2 linked regions of the Homo sapiens genome follow. The protein of the gene in region 2 purifies or fractionates together with the protein of the main gene of each other region. This does not show direct contact. Each region holds a gene or a part of one and is shown on either strand. Other genes may lie near its edges.

The links.
Region 1: the proteins of RBM12B (region 2) and RNF20 purify together in Homo sapiens (affinity purification with mass spectrometry; one large-scale study listed by BioGRID and IntAct). This does not show direct contact.

Annotation. Positions count from the first base shown.
Region 1 is NC_000009.12:101,536,708-101,540,531, reverse strand, and holds part of RNF20 (E3 ubiquitin-protein ligase BRE1A), read right to left. Parts: intron 330-3,824; coding exon 162-329; intron 43-161; coding exon 1-42. UniProt on the Homo sapiens protein: Component of the RNF20/40 E3 ubiquitin-protein ligase complex that mediates monoubiquitination of 'Lys-120' of histone H2B (H2BK120ub1).
Region 2 is NC_000008.11:93,730,981-93,734,804, forward strand, and holds part of RBM12B (RNA-binding protein 12B), read right to left. Parts: coding exon 2,425-3,824; 3' UTR 1-2,424.

The sequences.
Region 1 (3,824 bases), on a different chromosome or scaffold from region 2:
CAGATCATAACGTTTAAGGATGATACGGATGTTTTCATCAAACTGGAGAAGGGTAGGTACAATTATGAAGAAACAAAGGACACAACTTTGGAAATGAAGAGAACAGTAAGGAGAACTAAATTGGTCAAATAAAAATCTGAACAAATAAACAAGTTAGCTACCTGACTCCAGTATCGGTTGACAATCAATAGTGAGGCATCATCAGTGGCCTGTCGTCGTTCCAGTTTTTCAATGTGCTCACGAAGTTCATCTTCAATGGCCTGCCGCTGATCCAACATTTCTGCCAGCTTGCGATTTTTGGTTTGCAGTGTTCTAATGTCTAGTTCCTCCTGCCCAGTAAACCAATCGTATTAGTCTCCACAAAGAAATAAGAAAAATGAGCCGTTAAACTCAACAAGGTCACAATTATTCATTAGTTATTTTCTATGAATAAAGCTATTGACTTTTAAAAAATCTTACAAGTAATTAAGAAGTAGAAGCAGAAGAGATAAACAACAGGTATATGATGGTGTGAGGAAAGAATAATACACACAAATACACCAGAACCTCAACCCATCTCGCTGTTCTAGTCACATAAACATCTACAAAGTAATGCTGCTTTAAGGCCACCATCCAGCTAGATCACCCTCGACTCCAATCAACACTGTCTTCTATCTCGTAAGCACCATCCTTCCTTCATTAAAGACTTCAGCACCTGGGTCCCTGTCTATCCCAGTTCCTGCCAATATATCTGGTGACTTCACCATACATGTGGACAAACCATCTAATCCTCTAGCATCTAGGCTGTCAGTTTTTCCAGTTCCTTCACTCCAAACATTATCTCCTCCACTGTGCTTCAGCCATGCACTTCAAAAGACACATCTCAGACTTTTGTCATTATCTGGAACTGTACCACATCTGAAATCTTATATTCCAACTTCCCATTCCCTGAAAAACACCACGTCTTTCCAGGTATCTCATGCCCTTAACCCAATATACCAATCCCTTTACCTCATCAAGATCTCCAGAATGTTGAATTCTTTTCTTTCTCCTTTTCGGTCTCCTTCTATCTCTGCTACCTTCCATATCTTAATCATATGCTATATAGTACATTCCTTCAAACACCTGCCTAACAGCCTCCTTGGTTCTCTGCCCTTAATCCTTTTATTCTATCTCTGTCAACAAACCCCAATCTGAATTAATCCAGTTATCTGGCTATTCCATTCCTGTACCCAGTATGCTGAGACTTCTAGAGAAGTTCATCAAACCACCGAAACCGGTGCCTTTACAAAATGAATTCTTAGCCTAAACAGATTTTATAATTTGTCTAGAAATATTTCTTTATCAAGTGAGCTATTTCCCATTCTCCAGCAAGGCAACATCAACCTCTACCAAACCCTGCCCCCTTTTACATCATACAAAACAGATGGCTTTACTTCCTATTTTAATGAGAAAATAGAAGCCATCAGATGGAAAACAATTCCCCATCTCTTTGACCCATTAACACAATTATGCACACATTCTTAAAACCTCAGCTTGTGCTCAGGATCCTGTTCTCTTCTGTCTCTACAAAACCCTCACTCCATTAGTAATTTCACATCCCTCTCAATATTTTTCTCTCTCCAGCTCCTTCCCTAGGACAAACCAGGGAGGGGTTGGTGGGAGGTGGGATTGGAGGATATAACAAGCAAAGAACCAGCATGTGGAAAAATAGTCTTACTTTTCTGAGGAATTAATGAAATCATTATTTTAAAGTGACAATTGTTTATTACACCACCAATTTTTGTTTCATTTTTCTCTTTTCCACTTTAATTAAAACATTCCTAATATGCCAAAGTAGTCAACAGTTTTCCCACTGTACCAGTTTATTAACACTATTAATAAACTATATCCTCAAACTCTTCTCTGAACATTGCCTTTCCCTTCTTGCTCTAACTGAAACTTGGATGAGAAACTGTTTCCCTGCAGGCTTCTCTAGTGGTGGCTGTTTCTCTTCCACACCCCTTGAAGCCAGAGAGGGATGAATATCCTCCTTATTTTCCATTGCCACTTCCAGGCCATTACCCCACCTTCCTCCCTAAAACCTCCTACCTCTGCAGCTCATGCCATTAGCCTATACCACCTGCCGCCATGCTCTGTTGAATTCATCTGTAAATGCCCACGTCGTTTCCTCACATTTCACAAAGACTTAGCACCTACCTTATTATCACTCTCCAATACTTTTCCTGTCATCATTCTTAATGATTTCAATACCCATACAGATAACCTTTCCTATACTTGAATCATCAAGTCACTGACCTCCTCTTCACCAATGATCTTGTCTTCTACCTCCTTCAGCCACCAACTCCCACATTTAGTCTTACTTGTACCTACATGTCCTCTATAAGCTCAATTTCAAACACCTCATTCTTCACAACTACCACTATTTTTCCAGCTCACTCTCTCCAGTTTCCTTACTCCAAAAATTCTTTAACCTCTCCAGGATCTACAATCCATTGGTCCTATACCTTTCACTTCTCTCACCTCCTTCTTTACTGAACTTAAATTCCATGATCAGTCATTATATAGTCATCTACTTTACAGCGATACTCCTTTATAAAGCATTGTCTCTACTCTCTTTTTCCTAATTCCTCTCCCCTCATATTCTCTTAAGCTCACTGAAAACAGGGTGCCATCCCCACTATTTCACCAACAAAGGTGTTTTGGTATCTCCAGTGAACTATTATTAAATATAACACCTCAGTCCTCCCTTTATTCCCCTTGTTCCAACTGAAACCTGAATGAGAACACATCAGCAGCACCTAATCAGCTCCTTCTTGAAATACTTTCTTCATTGAGCTTCTGGGAACCCATTCTCTCTTCCTATCCTCTTACCTCATTGGTCCCTCTTTGTTTGTATCTTTGATTAGTCCTTTCTCATTCCTTGACATGAAAATATTGTAGTGCCCCAGCAGACCTCTTTATGCTTATTCATTAAAGGAGTCTGTAGTCTCATAGATGTAAACACAACTTACAAAATGACGATTCCCAAATATACAGCTTTAGCCCAGACCTCTCTCTAGTATCCAGCTTATTAACTACCTATCCATTCAGAGGTCAAATAAGTATCTCAAACTTATATGTCCCAAACCAAACCAAACTCAATTCATCCTCCATGACTCCCAAAAATCTGCTCCTCTCATACACTTCTCTAGCTCAGTAAGTAAAAATTCCATTACTTTCAAAATCCTGGGATGATCCTCCCTCCTATCTTTCATGTGAGTTATCCAATCCATCAGCAGATCTTATCAATGCTACCTCCACAGTGGTCCAAGCCACCATGATTTCTCATTAAGATTACTGCAAAGGCCTCCTATAGCAAAAACTCTGTGCTAAGTCCTGTCAGCCTGCCAGATTTCAGCACAGCTGTGGTGGACAGCTCCATTTACACTGCCATTGTTCCCACTTCAAGCACACTTTGGAGACTCAGTTTTTCTGTCCCGCAATCACAGCTGGCTCCTAACAGCAATCTCAAAATGCACAGGAGGGACTGCTTTCAATGGCAACCTTCAACCAATTGGAGCGGGGATCAGTGGATACATGCCTCAGATCCCCACCTTTGGAGAGATGCAGTTATAGCGAAAGAGAGTAAGAAGAAGAAAAGAAAAAAGTCTGCTAGCTGGACTCTTGTTTATAATCCTTGCTTTTCTATAGTCTCCAAACACAAGTCAGAGCATGTTAGTCTCCTACTTAAGACTATCCACTAACTCCTCATTGCCTCTGGATAAAGTCCACACTGGGGTGTGTGCTATGTGCTTCCCATAAGTATGTGCTTATCCCTGTCAACAGCACATACCCCACTCTAA
Region 2 (3,824 bases):
TGAGACTCTGTCTCTACAAATAATAAAAAATTTAGCCAGACAAGGTGGCACACACCTGTAGTCCCAGCTCTCAGGAGGCTGAGGCAGGAAGACAGCTTGAGCCCAGGAGTTAGAAGCTGCAGTGAACCATTATCAGACCACTGCACTCCAGCCTGGCCAGCAGAACAAGACTCTGACTCTTAAAATAATAAAACTACAAAGCTTATGTTTACTCTAGCTGGCCTCTTATCTACCACCACCATCCCACCTCAGCCCAGTTTGAAATGCAATTCCACAGTAAGTAATCCCTCACGTTAAGCTTCATCTTAGCTTTATTCCTTTGTATCTGAGAAGCATTTTTTAACTTTCCATATATTATTCAAAATGGGTGACCAAATGAACCATCTATACAATCTTTGCTCAATTAAAAATATCATTTCTACTTTCTTCATTGTGCTTGGTTTGGATATTCCAAACAATCAATTTAACATTATCCTAGCTACTTACAAGCTTATACTTTAAAGAATCATACTGAGGTGCTTTTTCATATCAAATTTACCTGTTTATTCATTCCATAGCAAGCAGGATATTCACTATTTAAAACAAATTTAAGCAGATTTCTGTTAGATTTCTTTAAATCACTGAAAAGTAACACAAAAATACATATAGGTAGTAACTAAGTACTGACAAAGTATTCTACCTATGCAATATCCTATTAAATGTCTAAATTACCATATGTAAATTTAATTGTATTATTTACTCAATGGGGAAAATCTGGATTACAGAACTGAGGAAAATTATGTTTTATGTAAATTATAAAAGGCCAAAGTCAATCATGTTGAATAAAATAATTTTGAAATATAAGCCAGTAATATACCATATGAGTATCCCAAGAGAAACCCTGGATAGAAAGAAACTTTTAAAGTCACTCTTTTTTTTTTTATTAGTAATGTTAATGTTTGAGCTCAGTGTTTGAGCATGCTGGTTTTACCTATTTATGCTAATTTTAAACCAACAATTGAAGTGAGAAAATAATCATTTATCCTTGAAAGTATCTTTAGCATGGTCTTCCTAATTAAAAATACCACTTAAAAAAGTGAGGCAGCAAAAGCATGAACTGGAGTCAGTGGTCTGTCTGGGTTAAAATTGGCCCCACGATTTACTACCTATGACTTCAAGCAAGTTGCTTAACCTCGCACTTCATCCCACTTCATTATCTCATTTGTGAAATAGAGGTAAATAATTAACCCTGTACTCACAGGGAATACCGAGATTATGCATGTAAAGTGCTTACAGTGCCTAGCACATAGTAAGTGCCTAATAAATGTTAGCCATAAATATTATTGTGGGTATAGAAAATCAAATTCCCTAGTTGCAAAATGTATGCACTAAATGCTGAATATCAAAGAAGTCAAAATTCAACCACACAAGTCTTAACAGTTATAGAGTCTTTGCATGGACACAGTTTCGAAGCTAAAAAATGAGAACCTAATATTACATGCAAGTTATGTGACTCATCAGTAAATTCTTCCTAGAAAAACAAACTATACCACTTGTCAGATTCTTCCAGCATAAGCCTGAGTCCCCTTGCACCTATAATTAGATTCTTATTTTACTATCTTTTGCGTATCTTGTATTAATTTTACTTGGTTGATAAGATGTTGAAGAAACCATGGAATTATACACAGCACTATACATTATTACTATAGAATGTCTGGTCCCTCCCATCATAAATATGGTTTAATGAAGTTATTGAAAAACTTCACAATATCGAGCTGCAATTCTTTTTTCTTTTTATACAAATACAAGTTAATTAGCTCTATTAAGTTGCAATTTTATTTTTATAAAGCTTTGTAAAGTTATGAACATGGAAACCCTAAGAATCACCTAAGCTTTTTACATAAGTAAATTTCAAGTTGACAGTCTGTCCATTTTGAACTATTTATAATTAACAGGACACTTAACACAGTAATATCTTAGACAAGGAAGAGGGCATTAATTCTGCAGGCAGGTAGCAATGAAAATGCCAAACCTGAACAATCAGTCACTATTTCCTTATACAGTTTGAGTAAAAGAGGTAGACTACAGAAAGAAAAAAAAAAGTGAATATAAAATGTATCTTCCCCAAATACAACTCTACTTCAATAAGTCTTGAAGATTACCGATGACATCAACAAAAATGAATGAACTCAGGGAATGAGTTCTTTCTCCCCATCAAAGAAAAAAACAGCATGTGTAATTTTAAATTTGAAAAAAAAAAAGAATGGCAATTTGCAAGCAAAAGAAAACCAGATTCACATTCTACTATTTACATTTGTTCTATTCACAGGTCAAAAATAAAATATTTCATTAGATAATTTAAAAAAAAAACACTTTTTTAAAACAAATGTATTTTACTCCATCAATACTGCAAGGAAGATAACTGAATTTAGAAATGCTCTCTCTCTACAGCAAAGTTAACTTAACTTTTCGGGGCCCAACTGGCCTATCATTTAGATCTTTAATAGCAGCCATAGCTTCATTATAGTTTATCATAGCAACAATGGCTTCCCCTGTAGGTAAGCCTTGCTCATTATACTGTATCGAAACTGAATCAGGTATGATTCTGTAACCATGGAAAAAGTCTAAAATTTCATTCACATTAGCTTTAAATGGAAGATTCATTATCTTAATAGGAGTTACTCTACCTGAACCACAATTTATTTTTGGATCAGGCATAAATCTCCCCTCAGGAAAACTTCCCATATTATGCTTTCCAAAATCAAACTTGCCACCTTCTGGGCGACCAAAATTCACAAAAGGGCGGTGACTTCTAAAATCATCAGGCGGGCTCCTAAAATCCTCACCAGGAGGTCTAAAATTGTCAGGAAGTCTAGGGTCCTCCTCCGGAGCTTCCCTAAGGTCTTCCTCTGGGAGCTGCCTGAAGTCCTCATCAGAAGGGCATCTAAAATCTTCCTCCTGGGGGCTCCTGAAGTCCTCATCAGGAGGGTGCCTAAAGTCTTCATCAGGAGGGCCCCTGAAGTCTTCATCTGGTGGGTGCCTGAAATCTTCCTCTCGGGAGCGCCTGAAATGCTCCTGAGGCGGCCGCCTGAAATGCTCCTGGGGCGGTCTCCGGAAGTGCTCCGGGGGCGGGCGCCTGAAATGCTCTGGGGGTGGCCGCCTGAAGTGCTCTGGGGGTGGCCGCCGGAAGTGCTCTGGGGGAGGCCGCCTAAAATGCTCTGGAGGTGGTCTCCGGAAATGCTCTGGGGGTGGCCGACGGAAATGCTCCTGAGGTGGCCTCCGGAAATGCTCCTGGGGTGACTGCCTGAAGTCCTCCTCAGGGGAATGCCTGAAATCCTCCTCTGGGGGCCGCCTGAAGTCATCCTCGGGTGGTCGCCTCCATTCTCCCTGAAGAGGCCGCCTAAAGTCCTCCTCTGGGGGCCGTCTCCAGTCCTCCTCAGGTGGCCGCCTGAAATCTTCCTCTGGGAGCCACCTTAAGTCCTCCTCAGGGGGTTGCCTGAAGTCCTCCTCGGGGAGCTGCCTGAAGTCCTCCGTGGGAGACCGCCTGAAATCCTCCTCCAGTGGCCGCCTCCAGTCCTCCTCAAGGGGCCTCCTCCAGTCCTCCTCCCTAGGGTGCCTGAAGTCATCCTCCGGAGGGCGCCTGAAATCTTCCTCCCAAGGGCGCCTGAAGTCCTCCTCAGAAGGCCGCCTGAAGTCTTCCTCCCTAGGTCGCCTGAAGTCCTCTGGGGAGTGCCTGAAGTCCTCCGGGGGGAACCTAAAGTCCTCTGAGGAGTGTCGGAAGTCTTCTGGAGGGTGCCTGTCAGGCTGCCGGAAATCCCTCTGGGGATGCTTGAAGTTATCCAGTT